Linked DNA regions of Homo sapiens: region 2 is linked to region 1. Evidence: fine-mapped expression QTL. A gene starts in region 1. The other region holds a variant in brackets. All regions are shown on one strand. Distances are from middle to middle. Region 1 holds the start of CARD9 (caspase recruitment domain family member 9). Region 2 overlaps SNAPC4 (small nuclear RNA activating complex polypeptide 4).

Evidence for each region. PIP is the estimated chance that this variant, and not a neighbour inherited with it, causes the effect.
Region 2: its variant is fine-mapped to the expression of CARD9 in whole blood (TOPMed, PIP 0.93).

What each region holds. Positions count from the first base shown.
Region 1 is chr9:136,369,679-136,377,678 of GRCh38, forward strand. CARD9 (caspase recruitment domain family member 9) reads right to left here and starts at 3,991. Exons shown (of 13, transcript NM_052813.5): 1 at 3,854-3,991; 2 at 2,217-2,416; 3 at 1,646-1,783; 4 at 1,163-1,467; 5 at 844-1,023; 6 at 616-759; 7 at 72-197. The coding sequence starts at 2,400. SNAPC4 (small nuclear RNA activating complex polypeptide 4) reads right to left here. Exons shown (of 24, transcript NM_003086.4): 22 at 7,865-8,000; 23 at 6,671-6,803; 24 at 5,893-6,122. The coding sequence ends at 6,678. RefSeq lists enhancers at 3,859-4,153, 4,173-4,886.
Region 2 is chr9:136,390,152-136,398,151 of GRCh38, forward strand. SNAPC4 (small nuclear RNA activating complex polypeptide 4) reads right to left here. Exons shown (of 24, transcript NM_003086.4): 3 at 6,826-6,872; 4 at 5,452-5,619; 5 at 5,147-5,272; 6 at 4,649-4,727; 7 at 4,098-4,179; 8 at 2,522-2,626; 9 at 2,371-2,443; 10 at 1,791-1,955. Among named protein-coding and RNA genes, the nearest start is that of SNAPC4, 6.0 kb to the right of the region's middle. RefSeq lists an enhancer at 7,303-8,000. The variant G/A (reference allele first, on the strand shown) is at 3,812.

The sequences.
Region 1 (8,000 bases):
CCTCAAGGGCCGTGGCCCTGGTGCACCCACCCGCGAGTGGGGTGCTTTGTCCTGCCCCTGCGAGTGCCCACCTGGTCCCGCTCAATGGCGACCTCCTCCATCTGCAGCAGGATGGCCTCGATGCGGTCCTTGTACATCTTGGAGTCCTTACGTAGTGCCAGGCACTGCAGCTCGAACATCTCCTTCTCCTCCATGCACTGCAGGGGGCGGCAGCTCAGCCCCCACAGGCCTGAGGCCCCCCATTCTGGCCCTTGGGGTATACTCCGGGCAGGGGCTCAGAAGCATGTGGTCAGGCCAGTTGGGATGTCGGGGGAGGCCATAGGAGTCCCCAGGCCCCTACCAGCCCTGCACTTCCAGACCGCGGCAGGACAGGGCCCTCCGGCAGGCCTCAGACACTGCTGTGCCTCAGGCACCATGAGCCCAGAGGTTGGCCTTTGCCATGGGGGGCAGGCGGGCAAGGAGAGGGCACCGTCCACTGTGCCTCCAGGAGTGGGTGAGTGGAGGCGCTGCACTGGGGTCTCCACACCCCACCTTCCAGGCACGGAGTGGGCGGAGCTCAGCCCGTCCAGCCTGGCTTGGACCCCAGGGGCCATGTCTCCCCGCCTGCCCTCCTACCCGGAGGCGTCGGGCCTCGCCCTGGCGGAGGTCCTTGCGCAGGGAGAAGATGGTGTTGGCCTGCTCCTGGTGGTCCCGCAGCGCCTGCCGCCAGTCCTCCTCCAGTACCTGGATGTAGGGGCTGCTCCTGTCCAGCTTCCCCTCCTGAAGGGGGCAAAAGGCAATGGCCTGGCTGGGAAGGCCCCCACTGCCCTGCCTGGGCTGCACCTGCCCTGCCTACGGCCCCACCTGGACGGAGGCCTCCAGCTCCTGCACCCGGGCCTGGAGCAGGGCCTTCTCCTGCTGCAGCTCCCACAGCAGCTCCTGGCTGGGCCGCTGCTCCATGGCGTGCCTGAGCTTCAGCGTGTGCTTGCGCTCCACCTTGCAGTCGTCCTCGGCCTTCATGAGGCTGTGCTTGAGCTGGTCAATCTGCAGAAGGTCCAGTGAGCCTGGCTGTCCCCTCCAGGCGGTGACCGCAGACCCGTGGGGCCACCCCCGACCGCCCCGGCCTGCAGACCCCGCCAGGCCAGGCGAGGGTGGCCTGGTTTCCCGGGGGCAGCGGGCGCACCTCCAGCTGCAGGTCACGGTTCCGCATGAGCGCGGCGCCCTTCTCCTCACTCTGGTGCGCCAGGCGCATGGCCAGGTCGTAGTTCTCCTCCTTGCAGCGCTTGAGCTCGCGGCTGCCGGCCTCGCACTCCTCCTTGAGCCTCTGCACACGCTCCTGGTGCTTGCGCAGCAGGCTGTCCTTCACCCGCAGCTCCTTGATGAAGTCATCTTTGGAGCTCAGCAGCGCGGTCAGGTCCTGCACCTTCTTCTGCAGCTTCATGACCTCAGTCATCAGCAGCTGAGTCAGGCCTGACTCCCCGGACGCGTCTGTGGGCCAGGCCAGTGTCAGATGGTGCCGTGTTCCCCGGTGGCCCAGCTCCATCACGCCCTGCGCTGTGGCAGGAGCTCAGGGCTCCTAGGGATGGGGGCCAGGCAGAGGACCCAACACCACTGCCCGCTCCCCGCCAGCGCCTCCCCTGTCGGCCCCGCCTCCCCCGTCACTCACCGATGATCATGGAGAAGACGCGGGCCGGCTCCTTGCCTGTGACCTTCTTGTACAGCTGCGGGTAGTAGAGCTCCAGGCTCTCGAGGAAGGCCACGTAGCCCTTGTGGCCGGTCCGCTGCAGGATGTCCAGGAGCACACCTGCGGGCCAGAGAGGCCTAACTGGGGGCGGGGCACAGGCGAGGCAGAGGGCTGGGGTGGGTGGGCCTGGGGGCAGGGACAGGTGGAGGCTGGCATGCAGATGAGGTGTGCCGTGGTCTGGGTCTTGGATGAGGTACCCTGCGGGTCTTGGTACTAGGCTGGGGACCAAGTGCTGCCCACCCGCCCCTTGGCTGTCTCAGGAGCCCCCGCTGCGGTGGGAGCCCCGCTGCCCCTCTTGGCAGCACCAAGCCGGCAGGAGAGGCTGGGGGACGGGCCACGTGCCAGGGTTGAGGTTGGGCCTCAGTCAGAGGCCAGGGGCAAAGCCAGGCGGGGCTCTCCTGGGGTTGAGGGTCAGGGTGGCAGAGCGTGCAGCCACCTCCGAGCTGACTCTGTGGTTGGGTTTGGGGCCTGGGGCCCGCGGGGCAACACTGACCCACTTTCCGTTTGCGGATGACCAGGTTGGGGTCGCTGAGCACCTGCTCCTCATCATCGGGGTTCAGGACCTTGCACTGCCGCAGGTAAGGTGTGATGCGTGAGGGGTCGATGACCGAGGTGAGCGTCACCCGGAAGCCCTCCAGGACGCTCCAGCACTCGTCATCGTTCTCGTAGTCCGACATGGCCTCAGCAGGCAGGCTGGGGAGTGTGGGGCAGTGCTGAGAGCGATGCCGGCTCCTGCCCCCACCCGGGCCCAGCTCCCACTCCTTCTCAGACGCTGGGCCAGGGCTCTCGTCAGGGCATCGAGGGGGATCAGCCCAGGGGCATCCAGGAGAGGTGCCCAGCTCCATGTCCCATCCCCACGCTGGATCCCCCAGGGAGGCAGCAGAGACACAGTGACCCCGCTCCCCACCAGACCAGCCGAGGGCCCCTCCGCAGCCTTTCCCAGCCCTTGCTCCTGCCCGTTGGCATCCATGTCACCCAGATACGCAGCGGGGGAGGCACAGATGGGGTCTGAGAGAGGAACTCCCCCTACAGCATGACCCCCTCTGGCCTCTGCCTCCTGGACACTCCCATCACGCCCTGGAGCCTGCAAGGTTAGCCACCTCCATGGCTGGAATGGGCAGAGGAGCTGAGGGCAACTGCCTGGCACTATGGCCAGCCCAAGCTGGGTGAGAGCAGGTTGGCCAGTGGCCCTCCCACCAGCACAGCAGCTGGGGGAGCCGGTTCTTGTGGGACTTCCTCATTCCCCTGACCGACGCCTGCTCACATCCCTGGCTGTGCCCTCCCTCCTCCACGGCCGGCTGCTGATGATGCAAGAGTGGCCACCCAGCCCTGCTGCAGCTGCGGGGTCGCTGCACTGGCCGGGAAGAGCTGCCCACAGGAGCGTGTCTCTGTCACCCCCTGCCGGCCCCGCAACCCTGGGAGGGGCTGTCAGTGTTGCCCTTGGCTGGCCAGGAGTGCTGCTGCGGTGTTTTCTCCAGGTTGAGGTGCCGGGCACCAGTGAATCCCTGGACTCTTCTCCTGCCCCAGATGAGGCCCGGCCCCCATCCCAGTGGCTGCAACAGAACTACCCATGTTGGGACCAGCCACTGCTGTCCCTTTCTGCCAGCATGGTGGGGGCCTCAGCCGCTGAAAGCCACTCCCTCTGAGACTGGGACTGCGGCAAGGCTGGGAGCAGCCACGTGGTCCTCAGACAGCCTCCAGCCCCGCTGGGAAACGCTGGTTTCCAGCCCAGAGGAGCTGGGTCACTGCTCCTGGAGACATAGTTGCCCCAGGCTTGGTCTTTTGAGGCATTTCTCAACTTCCCGCTGCACTTTGTCACCCCATTCAGGACAGTTTTGACAGACAAGGGACTGAATAAAAACACTGGCCACACGGTAGACAGTCCTGGGAACACTGGGCCCCTTTCCTGCTTCCCCAGCTTGAAATGCAGGGTCCCATCTGCCACCGTAATTCCACTGAAATGAACACATCTCCGCCCAGGGGCCGTGAAAGGGACGGGGCCGCATGGCGGAGGCTGCCTGGCTGCCTGTGGGAAGCCTCAGGCTGCTCTGGGGGATCAGTGCCAGGATCCTGAACTAGGCCAACGCCAACCTTCCTGGCCACCTTTCAGAAAGCACCAGACCCACCCACCTGAGGGTCTTCCAGGAGCCACCTGCACTGCAGACACACCAGGAGCCTGGGCCGCGGAGCCTCTGGGAGATGCTGCCCGGGGCTGCAGGGAGGGAGGAGCACGCCGGACGCCTGTGCACTTCCTGATGGGTTCTGCTTAACTCCACAGTCCCGCCAGTCCTCCCACAGGGGGACAGTCCCTGGTGACCTGCTTTCTGATTCGCCCAGCCCAGGAGGCCCCAAGAGGCAGACGGAAGTGGAAGTCCGCTGCCCTCCAGAGGAAAGCTGCTCCCAGCCCTCCCAGCCTGGCCGGGGGCTGGGGGTCCTGGGGATGCCCCAGAGGCCCAGCCCTGGCACCTGGCAAGTAGAAGAGACAGCAGAGACCCCCAGGGGGCTGGACAAGGCCAGCCCGCACCCAGCCACTTTGACCTGGTCACAGGCTTCTGGAGACTTCTTCAGTAAGGCATGCTTTGCTCTGTGCGAACACCCTCGCCCTCGCCAGCATCTCAGGACAGCGGGGCAGGGCATGTGCAGGGGGGCACACAGCCACACGGCATGGCCAGCACACGCCTTGGTCACAGAAGGGCTGCAGCCCACCTTATGGAGCCCAGGAGGCCACAGCAGCCTGCCAGGGGCCATGGCATCGGCCACCACCCAGCTGCACACGGGGGAGAAACGTCCCTTCCAGAAGTGTCGTTATCCTCGTTATCCCCATCATGAGGCATCCCTGCTCTCCACCAGGATGCATGTGAGGACTGAGGCCACTCTCGGGGTCCCCCAAACCAGCTTCAGAAGAGCCGGTGACAGCAGGGCACAGCTCGGCCCCCATCCAGGGACAACGGACAGCAGAGTCTGCCCTGAACTGTGCACTTCAGCGTGTGGGCTGCCAGAGCCTCATCCCTGCAGGCTTGGGAACCCCCAGGCCCCGCCTCACCCGGTAAAGCTGGTTGAACTGAGTTGCCACCCAACAGGTTCGAGAAGGGGCCGCCAGGCTGGAAGGCAAGGAAGCTGGTGTGGAGCTTGCCTAACCGTTCTCAGCCTCCAGCCCTCAGGCCTCTGTGCGGACAACGTCTGACATCACACATTAAGGAGCGGACAGTTAGGGGTCCTCCTGGGCTCTCGGGAATGCCACATTCCAGGGGGCCGTGCCCCTGCTGGACCCCTCACCATCAACATGAGCGAGTGTGCAGGCCGGGGCCATCCTGGGCCCTGCCAGGGAGCGAACCGGAGCTGGCACCAGGCCCTCATGACCCAGTGTTTCCCCAGCGTTTAAAACGCGGACCTTAGTGACTTCCCTGTGGTGTGTGTCCTTAGGAGTGAACACACATACCATGTTCTCTAACCATATCGGAAGCTAAAAATCGGTAACAGATATCGGCAAAATCTCTAAATATTTGGAAATTAAATAATATACCGCTAAATAACCCACAGATCAGAGTGGCCCCCAGACTAGGCACCAGACTAGAGAACCAGGCACAGCAACACATACTCAGGAGTGAGGTCGGCCATGGGACCGTCCCGTCTGCCAGGTGCCCAGGGCTGAGGCCCCACAGTGGCTCCAGTGAAGGATCGAAGCCCAGATAGCCAAGGGCCTGGGGGCGCTGCTGCCACAGAGACAAAGGAAAGGGAGCTAGGGGACAGACGGAGAAGATGGGGGCTAGTCTTATGCCAATAAAGGCCCATGCAAAAGGAACAGTGGAGGGTGGGGGCTGCCGCCGTGTCGGGGTAGCCAGGTCATCTGTTCCAGGGAACCCCCTGGGTCAGCCAGGGCAGCGCGAGGGCTGGCAGCCATCTGGGGAGGGTGCCGGCTAGCCTGAAGGACAAAGCCACAGATGCTTTCCAGGAAATGGGCGAAAGAAAGCCTGCTTCTCTGACAGGAGGGCAGCCGGGGTACGGGAGGCCTTCCAGGACCCCAGCTCTGGGCCCCCAGCACCCTGCTTGTTCCCGAACTGCCTGCACTAGGGTGGCTCAGCCACTAGGCAGCAGCCTGACCCCAGCCAGGTGGGGGGTCCCTGTACACTGCCCGGTACCTCAGGACAACAAAACCACAACAGCCTGTGTCCAGCTCCACAATTAAAAACAGAACTTTATTCCTCCAAGTGTTCAGGTGTGCACTTGGGGAACAGCCATGCTCCATGCCACACAGTCAGTCGGCAGGCCCGCCTCTGTTCACTGCGGACCTGGTCAGTCAGCGGCCAGCAGATACCTGGCCTCTGGCTGCCTCTCTTGCAGGCTGGGGGTGGGCTGTCTCTCGTCAGCAGGGCCACGGGCTTCTGAGAAAGTGCTTGTCCTGGAACACAGGAACACCAGGTGGGGGGTGCCCTTGACCCCAGCCAGACCCCAAGCAGGGCTGGGACAGACAAACAGGAACCAAGACCACCCCAGCGCCGGCCACGCCCAGTCTGCTTGGTAAACCTGACCCACATGCGCCAAGGGCCAGGCCAGGGCACCAGGGCTCCAGCAGTGAAGAGCCAGCCTGGTGGCTGCGGTTGGGGATGGTGATCGTTTTACAAGCTGGGAGACGACGCAGCAATGCACGGGAACAGGGCACCACCAGAGCACAGCGGCCAGGGAGGAGCCCAGACCCCAAAGGCAGGGAATGAGCCTATGGTCAGGGGCACAGTGGTGCCAAGGCCCGAGGCATGGGTGGCCAGCAGGAAGGATGTGGGTTAAATGCTTCTCCCCCTGGAGGGCCTCCATGACCCTGGACCTGCCCACCTAACCCAGCACACCTGCTGTGAGCGCCAAAGAGCCGAGCAGAGGCCAAGGCCCCCTGCCATCTGGACACCACTCTGTCCCCTGGGTTGTAGGGCAGTGGCCTCCCCACTCAGGACTCACCTGCTGCTCACACCAGCCGCCTCCGCTTCCGGGTGTGCCTGGCATGCCGGGTTCTGAGCACGTCCAGGTCGTCAGGGTCATTAGAAGTATCCAGGCAGGAGGAAGCAGAGCATTTACCAGAGTCTGGGGCTCCCTGAAAGAAAATCCAGGCAGTGGGGACAAGAGTGACACCCCCGAGCCATGATGGACGGGGAAGGGACGGGAGTGAGGAGGGGCCCTGTGGGTGAGTGTCCCACTTGGGACAGGGCACCCTCAGCTCAGGCGGGAGCTGCTCCAGGCACTCCTGGGGCCACACGTGACTGTGCACTCCCTCCCTCGGGGGCTCTGACCCCATCCAAGCCATCCCTCTGGTGGGCCTCCCACTCCCCCATGGGACAGCCATCACACCCAGGCAGGGCAGGAGGCTGTACATGGATGGGGCACAGAGGGCCTCTTCCCCTGGCTGGCCGGGGTCCTCCCCAACTCTTGGACATTGCTTCCTCCCACACTTCAGCCCAGGGACTTGCGAGACACAACCCTGGGGAGAGATGGAAGGCCCTCTGCCACACTCCCTATGACAGGCCCACAGGTCCAGCTGAGGCTGCCTGCTTCTGGTGGTTTCTCAGGGAGGCCAGCCTCCCAGCTGCTGCAAGTGGGCACCCTGGCACCAGGGGAGGAGGCCTCTCTGGGGGCCCCAGCTCCACATGCTTTCCAGGGTTCCAAACATGGTTTCACCTACAGAGATTGGAAAACTCTCCCCAAGGACACTCAGAGAGGTGACAGCAGAGAGGGACCTTTGGGACCCCAGAAATCCAGAGACAAACACAGCCACCACCCTCCACTGTGCCCATGGCCCACCCTGGGAGCACACGTGTGTGTGGCGTGTGCGGCTCAGAGCCGGGTCAGCGTCCATCCCAGAGCTTCTCGCTCAGACAAGGCCACCTGGCTGGGCAGCATCAGGATGGCCGGAGGCTCCTGCACGAGAATGAGGCCTCTCTTCTCCCCTTTTCCACACTGCCCCAAAGGGAGGCCACTTCTGCAGAATCTACACGCAACTGGGCAGGCCAGGAACCAGCTTCCTCCTCCTAAGACACCCAGCAGCCAGCCTTCCTGCCCGCAACTTCCACCAGCCCCCACCCCACTGCTCCAGGCAGGCGAGGGCACCCCAGGGACCGCCGCCTGCCATGGGGAAGTGGGGCTGGGCGCCCACCCTACCTGAATGGGGCATGTGGCTGTCGTGCAGCCCGGCTGCCCGTCCCTGTCTGCAAGTTCCAGCTCACTCAGGAGGTCTTCATCCTCACTCTCAGAGCCCACCCTCGAAGGTACTGAGAGGGTGGTGCGGACGCCTTGG
Region 2 (8,000 bases), 20 kb after region 1:
CCCACCCTCCCACAAAGCCAGAGGCTGGTCAGGCGGGTGGGAAAGCAAAACCCAGCTGCACGCTGCTTTCATGAAAACACTTGGAAATGACGATTTGTTAAAAGGCTGAAAATACAGGGATGGGCCGGGCGCGGTGGCTCACGTCTGTAATCCCAGCACTTTGGGAGGCTGAGGCCGGCAGATCACAACGTCAGGAGACTGAGACCATCCTGGCTAACACAGTGAAACCCCGTCTCTACTAAAAATACAAAAAATTAGCCGGGCGTGGTGGTGGGCGCCTGTAGTCCCAGCTACTCGGGAGGCTGAGGCAGGAGAATGGCGTGAACCCGGGAGGCGGAGCTTGCGGTGAGCTGAGATCGTGCCACTGCACTCCAGCCTGGGCGACAGAGTGAGACTCTGTTTGAAAAAAAAAAAAAAAAAAAAAAAAGGAAAGAAAAAGAGCTAATGAGCTAACGCAAGCTGGGCTGAATCCCTGGGTGATGGGCTGATCTATGCAACAAACCACCATGGCACACGCTCACCTACGGAACCAAACTGCACATCCTGCACACACAGCCCTGAACTCAAAAAATATGAAAAACAAAAAAGAAAAAAAGAAAGCAGACCCCGATTAAAAAAAGTTATGTGTACCAAACTATGTAGCAGTAAAATATACATAGAAGAAAAACCGATTTGTATTTATTTATTTATTTTTTTTTTTTTTGAGACGGAGTCTTGCTGTCGCCCAGGCTGGAGTGCAGTGGCGCGACGTCCGCTCACCGCAAGCTCCGCCTCCCGGGTTCACGCCATTCTCCTGCCTCAGCCTCCCGAGTAGCTGGGACTACAGATGCCCGCCACCACGCCCGGCTAATTTTGTATTTTTAGTAGAGACGGGGTTTCTCCATGTTGGCCAGGCTGGTCTTGAACTCCCGACCTCAGGTGATCCGCCAGCCTCGGCCTCCCAAAGTGCTGGGATTACAGGGGTGAGCCACTGTGCCCGGCAGAATTAAGCATCTTTAAAGGCAAACTCAATTTAATAGCTGATATAGAGTAGGCCCTACTTACAGAGAACATACCTTTTTCTTAAAAACAGTTTTGGCAAGTTTAGCTGGGTCTGCTATAATCAGGTGCTCTGCCATAAAAAAGTAAAATATATTTGAAAAATGGAGATTTTATACATCTCGCCCCTAGTTCATGTTCCAATCAAATTCAGATAAAGAACCACCACAAGAACTCCCAGAAATCCAACTATTTAAAAACGGAAACATACACTCCTAGATACACCTAGGTCCAAAGAGGCAATAAAAATGGAAACTAGAGCTACTTTGGAAATCTATGAGAAGAAGAGTTCACGCCAAGCTACTCTCAGGGTGGCCTAACAAGCCTCGTTATCAAGACAAGAGACCCAAGTCAGTAAAGAACTGAGTCCTTACTCAGGAAACCAGAAAAGCGGCAAGAACTCACACGAGGAAAAAGCGCTTTAGAAACATCAACAGAATAAACTCCCGAGGCTGATGGAGACAGAAGAAGACTAGAAATAAGAAAGGAGACAAACTCCGGTAAACTGGGCATGCACCGCTGCATGGGGAGACCTGGAGGACTGGGAAGGCCCAGAGGAGCTGCGGCAATGGCCTAGTGGCAGAGAGGGCTGGGCAGGCTCCTTCCCTAGGGCCACAGCCTGGAGGTGGCAACACATAGAAACCTGGCGGTGAGTGAGCACTGGGGACCCCGCACCCGTCCAGCAGCCTCCCGCTATAGGGCCCACACGCCCTCAGGTCTCCTGGCCCCTGGGGTCCAGGCCAGGCCCTTACCCCCAGCTCCTCTGCAATCTTCTGCCACTCCAGGTGGCCGTGTGCAGCCGCGATCGCCTGCAGCCGCTCCTCCTCCTCCCTGCTCCACTCCTGCTTGTTGATGCTGGGGTGCTCCGAGTTCTGCCAGAACTTCCGGATCTCCTCTGCACTGCGGCTGCCTTCAAACTGCACCGACAGAGACACTCAGCCTTGCAGGCCACTGACCCCAGGGGCACCCTAGACGCAGCTCCAGGCTGAGCTGTTGCTCTCCGCCAGCTGGAGGCTTCCACGGCTGCAAGTAAGCGCAATCTTCGTCCAACTCACTAGGCCTTGCATAGCCAAACATGTAGACTTGGCTCCAGATGCAAGGCCGGGAGCCCTCCAGACCATCTCAGAAAGGGCCGTGCACCAGCCTGAAGGCCCTCGTGAGTCCACTCGCCATTCCCGACTGTGGGACATGTGCTTGACCCGGGTGGGTGGGGGGTCACAGCAGAACCTGTTGCCAGGGAGGGTGTGGCCTTACCACCCAATTCCAACTGCACCCGGGCTACAGGGAGCTGTGCTCCAAGCTGCTTGGGGCTCAGACCTGCCCCTGACTTACGTTAATATTGGAAATCTTCTCCCAGTCGTGGCTGTCCAGCCTGTTTCCCAGCAAGGCCTCTTCTGGAAGCTGGCTGGTGGAAGGGATGAGGGTATTGGCACCACGCCTGGCTTGTGGGCTCCCCTGGGCCCTCCCGGGAGGCCCCCCTCACTTGATGTCCTGGATCTCCTTCTCGGCTTCCCTGCCCTGCTTCTCCAGGGCTTGCCTCTCCAGCTCACTGGAGACTTTGCTCTGCTTCTGGTGCAAGTACTCGAGCCTGCAAAGCAGAGCAGAGGCAGAAGGGCTGGGGCACGAGGGCTGCGGGGCGGGGCAGGTTCTCTGCACATTACAGGGCAAGGAGTGTGAGCTCAGCAGAGATTCCGAGCCTCCCTCACCCTCCCTGCCTCGGCCTCCTCACCCATGAGGGAAGCTGTAGCACCCACCTCCAGGCTGCCACCGGGGTGGGAAGGGCTGCAGTGTCTGCTGACACAGAGGCTACCGCCTGCTGGCCCCCGTGTCTCAGAGCCTCGCCACAGCCCTCCGGAGCCTCAGTGCCCCAGCTCCCAGCCTGTGCCTGGCACAGAGACACAGCCGTAGGCAGATATCCTGACTGGTGCCCAGTGAGGAGGCCAGAGGCTGTGAGGCCACAGTAAAGAACCACTCCCCAGAGCAGGCCAGGGAGGAAAACCCAGCTCTCCCCGAGCCTGAGGAGAGACCCACCGTCATCACTGCAAACCCTGACCATGCACATCAGGCCACGGGGGGCAGGCGGGACCCGGGACCCCTGGCATGGCCAAAGCCCTCTCAGTGCCCAGAGATGCCCTGGCAGCTTGTATTCTAAAGGCACCCCCTCTGCCTTGAGAGCTCATGGTGGCCCCACAGAAGACAGATGGGGACCTGCTGTGCTGTTGAGTGGCCAACCAGGTGCTGCTGGGTCTCTGGGCTCTGGGAGCAGCTCTGTCTTTGACCAAAGTCATCAGGACAGCAGCGCCTTCTATCAAGTGCGGACAGTAAGGCTGTGCTGTGCCTTCTTTGGTCACGTGATTATCACCCCATCAGCAAACAGCAGGTTTCAGGAATGGGAAAGGGAAGCCCAGAGAAGCTGCCTGAACCACACCCCTCATCATGGCCGTGTGGACCGACCCCATGCCCCGAGCCACACCTCTCATCGTGGCCGTGTGGACCGACCCCGCGCCCCGAGCCACACCCCTCATCGTGGCTGTGTGGACTGATCCTGCGCTTAGCCGCCCGCCCGGCCATGGGGAAGCCCCCTTCATGGGGAAGGGGCATAAAGTCCAGGCATGAGCATCTCTCCATGGCCTGGCAAGACCCGCTGCAGAGAACGGGCATACAGCTAAGCTGAACCTCTGCCAAGCCCAAACCAACCAGCCTTGGCTTTTCCTGTTGGCCAGGAAAGGCTGTTGTGTTTGTTTTTGAGACAGGGTCTCGCTCTGTCACCCAG[G/A]CTGGAACGCAGTGGTACAATCATGGCTCACTGCAGCTTTGACCTCCTGGGATCAATCGATCCTCCCACCTCAGCCTCCCGAGTAGCTGGGACCACAGGTGTGCACCACCACACCCAGCTAATTTTTTTACTTTTTGAAGAGATGGGGTCTCACCATGTTGCCCAGGCTGGGCTTGAACTGGGTTCAAGAGATCCTCCTGCCTTGGCCTCCCAAAGTGCTGGGATTCCAGGCATGAGCCCTATGCCCAGCCTGAAGACCGTTTTTGACTTATGGTTTTAGACTTACTTCAGTAACTTGGGCTGAAGCAATCGCTGCAGGCGGTCACTCACCACTGACTTTCGGAGCAAGGCCTTTTCCCAGTTTTTCCCTGAGGAGAAGCCACAGCATCATCACTGGGGGTCTGGATCCTCTCCACGGCCCAGCCCCCACGGTTGGTGTGCACTTCCCGAGGCAGTGGTGGGGGGCCCCACAGCGAGTAAGCAGCACGCCAGACCTACTGACGTGGCCCCTCCACCCAGCTGACAGAGCTCCACCCGAGGCCTGGCGCCAGCTCACACGTAAAGCCACAGGGCTTTGCGGCCCAAGACAAGGGCGGGGAGACTGAGCCAGAGGGTGGGGTGCGGCCTGGCTAGCCCCTCGTGACTGGTGTTCTGGAAAGGACCTGCTCAGTGTGGAAAGGCAGGAGTCAAGGGGCCAGTCCCAGTGGTCAAGGCCTGAAGGAGCCATGAGGTCACAACAGAGAGAGGTCTGAGAACTTGGGGAGAAACTGGGGAAAGGAGGGCCATGGGGAGGTGTCCCAAGCTCAGGGGTGCCGCAGGGCCGGCCAGGGCTCTTACATTTGGTCACAAGGAGCTCCTCGAAAGCCTTGATCCCCTGGGCAGCCTTCTCTCGTGTGTCCTCGTTGGCAGGTGGCCCCTGTCAGGGTGCACGGCATCACCACAAGCACAGGCCACATGTGCTCCCTGCAGGCCCAGCACATCCCTCCAGAGCCCACAAAAGGACTCGGGCTCCCCCTGCCTCCTGTTCTCCCGTACTGTGAGGCTGTGGGGGTGCAACCCTGCCGGCCACTCCATGAAGCCTGATGAGGTCAGGCCTCGCACAGACAACACTGGCACCTCCACGAGGGCTTGCTCATCGCTTCACAGGGCAGTCCTGGCAGCCCAGCGCAGAGCAGAGGGCAGCTTGCCCACCACGGAGGAGGCAGTTTGAAGGAGGTTGGCCAATGTTATCTTGAACTCACAGGAATTCACGACTCCCTGCAGCAGGACTTGGGGACAAGAACCCTTCCCACGGTGCAGAGCCTTGCCGACAAGAGCAGGGCCTCGGCCACTCACCACGCCCGTGACCTTGTCCTTGAAATACGGCTTCATGAAGTGCCCCATGTATGTGCTTGGGGGCAGGCTTTTGCCATCTTTCACCTTGGTGCCTTTGGACCCAGCCAGATCCCTCATGAGTTCCTCCTGTGACAGACACAAGGCAGGGACCCCTCTATGGACCAGCAGCAATGACTCTCCCTGCGGAGGAGACCCGGGGCAGAGGAGAGGCAGGGAGCTGGGGAGCCCTGGACCTGGGAGGCCCAGCTGTGGGGGGCTCTGGGGGTGGGGAGGTGTGGGCACCGGGGGGCCGAGGCCCATCCCACCTGCTGCTCCCGGTTCTGGGCCAGCAGCAGGTTGGCCTCAGCCAGCTTCTCCTGGATGACCTCCTGGTAGACCATGTTCAGCTGCAGGCAGGTTTCTGGGTCTTCAGGGAGGGTTTTATCCTTGGGATCGTCCTCGTCATTGCTGGCTTCGCCCCACCTTTCTTCTTCCTGGTAACGAGCCAGAAATGGCATGTGACGAGATGAGACGTGGATGCTCCCCTGTCCTCGGCAGCCAGTCGCCCATCGCTGGGCCTCTGGGACACCGAGGCAGCTCTGGCATAGCAACACCCAATGTGGAAGCAGGAAGTGACCCTGGTGGGCAGCGGGAGGGCGTCTGAGTTTGGGAGTGGAGCCTGTCACTCTCAAGGCGGCCTGTGTGCGCCTTTCCTAATCCACGGCAGGCAGAGCCTCCAACCTGGAACACGCCAGGGCTGCGGCTGCTGCAAGGCAGCAGGCAGCTTTCCAGGACCACAGGCGTCCTGTGAACCCTGAACTCTGTCCTGAGCCCCTGTCGTGTGCATCACCAGCAAAGCACGGGGAGCAAGCCTGTGTGGGAGGAAAGTCTCTGCAGAGCCAGGAAGTGGACGCAGTGAAAATGCCCACTGGGAGGTGAGGTGCCCACAGGCTACAGCAGGGTGCTCACTCACAGAAGGTGAACCACACAGCCACGCAAACATGAGGAAACTCAGTACCCACTAACTTTGCAGAAAAAGGAAGCAGCAAATCGCCAACGTTTTCCAAAGTAAACAAAAGGCAGCTAATAAAATAATCACTGGCCTCACAGAGCAGTTGCCAGGTGCTGTTTGGGTGCTTGTGTATTTTTCTTTTTTTTGAGACAGGGTCTCACTCCATCACCCAGGCTGGAGTGCAGTGGTGCAATCACAGCTCACTGGAGCCTCGGCCTCCTGGGCTCAAGTGATCCTCCTGCCTCAGCCACCCAAGTAGCTGCGTCCACAGCCACGTGCCACTGCACCAGCTAATTTCTGTATAGCTGCTCGTGTTAACTGACTTGTGCTGTAAACGTCCCCGCTGCCCCACAGGAATCTGAGGCACAGAGAGGCGAGCTGTGAGGGGCAGGACGCAGGTGCACAACTCACAGCTTTCCGCAAGTGACAGATGCCACACAGGAGACAGAGGCATACAGCAATGAGCTCAGAAAAAACCCAAGGGGTGTGATCACCAAGCTGTTAACAGTGGTTATTTCTGGGGACAATTTCAATGACAAATGCTTTTTAATTTTTTTATAACAAACGTGAATCATTTTTATAATGCAGAAAAACCAATATGGGTTCAAACCACGCCCCCTCCCAGGCTACTTTGGAAGGTGGTGGCAGGCCTGACCCAGTGGCACAGCCAGATCAGGCCAACAGTTACCGAGATCGGGGGATCGGCAGGATCCAAGTCCTCAGAAGGCAGTGAATCTGTCAGAAACACAAGCAACACCGTGTTGGTAACCAGCGTCTTGGGCAGGGTGGGGGCGCAGCTCACCACTGCTTCTTGGGCAGACCTGGGGTTGTGAGGTAGTGACAGCGCCTCAGGCTGAGGCTGGCGGTGAGCGGACCTTCCCTCCCTGACAGCGGGGTGGGCACTGGACCAAGGCCGGGTTAGCCAGATAGAGAAAACTCTGACCACACACTGGGGACCTCCAGGCACACAGGACAAAGCTACACAGGGTTCACTGGATGGCACAAGCTATCTTTACTGGAGAGACAGGGAAAGTTTAGCAGAAAACGGACCTCTCCTTCAGGAGCTTAGCCGGTCAGATGGGAGGCACGGATGTAGAGGCCCTCACCACAGGAGAAAGATAGCAGGTTGCCTCAGAGGCAGGCCCTGGGTCTGGGAGAGGTGGGAAGCAAGGCTGGGGGGGTCTCCTGTCAGGGCAGCAGCTGGTGGGGTTGGGGTAGGCTCAGAAGCTAAAGGGAGCATGGAGGAGAGCATGTGGGGAGGGGAGCATGTTGGGAGGAGAGGCTGTGGGGTGGGGAGCCTATGGGGTGGGGAGCACATGGGGAGGGGAGCACGTGGGGTGGGGAGCACGTGGGGAGGGGAGCACGTGGGGAGGGGAGCACGTGGGGAGGGGAGCACGTGGGGTGGGGAGCACGTGGGGTGGGGAGCACGTGGGGAGGAGAGCACTTGGGGTGGGGAGCACGTGGGGAGGGGCACATGTGAGAAGAAGAGATCCTAGGGGTGTGAGCTGTGTTGACCATCCAGGCATGGACTGTCCAGACTGCCATCTGGTGAGGTTCAGGCCTGCCCCCTCCTCCCAGGATGGTCCACTCCAGAAGCCCTGCACAGGCCCAAGGAGGCCAGGCCCAGACCCTGGGATGCCTAGAGCCCAGTGTACACACACAGCCAGCTGGTTCAGGGGCTAGCAAAGGAGGAATTGTCAGAAGCTCTCTGGCTGGAGTACAGAAAGACACCAGTGTTGGCAAAAAATTGGGTCTGGTCCAAGCAGCACCAGCCATCGTTTATTATTATTATTATTATTTTTAGAGACAGGGTCTTGCTGCGTTGTCCAGGCTGGACATGAACTCCTGGGATCAAACAATGCT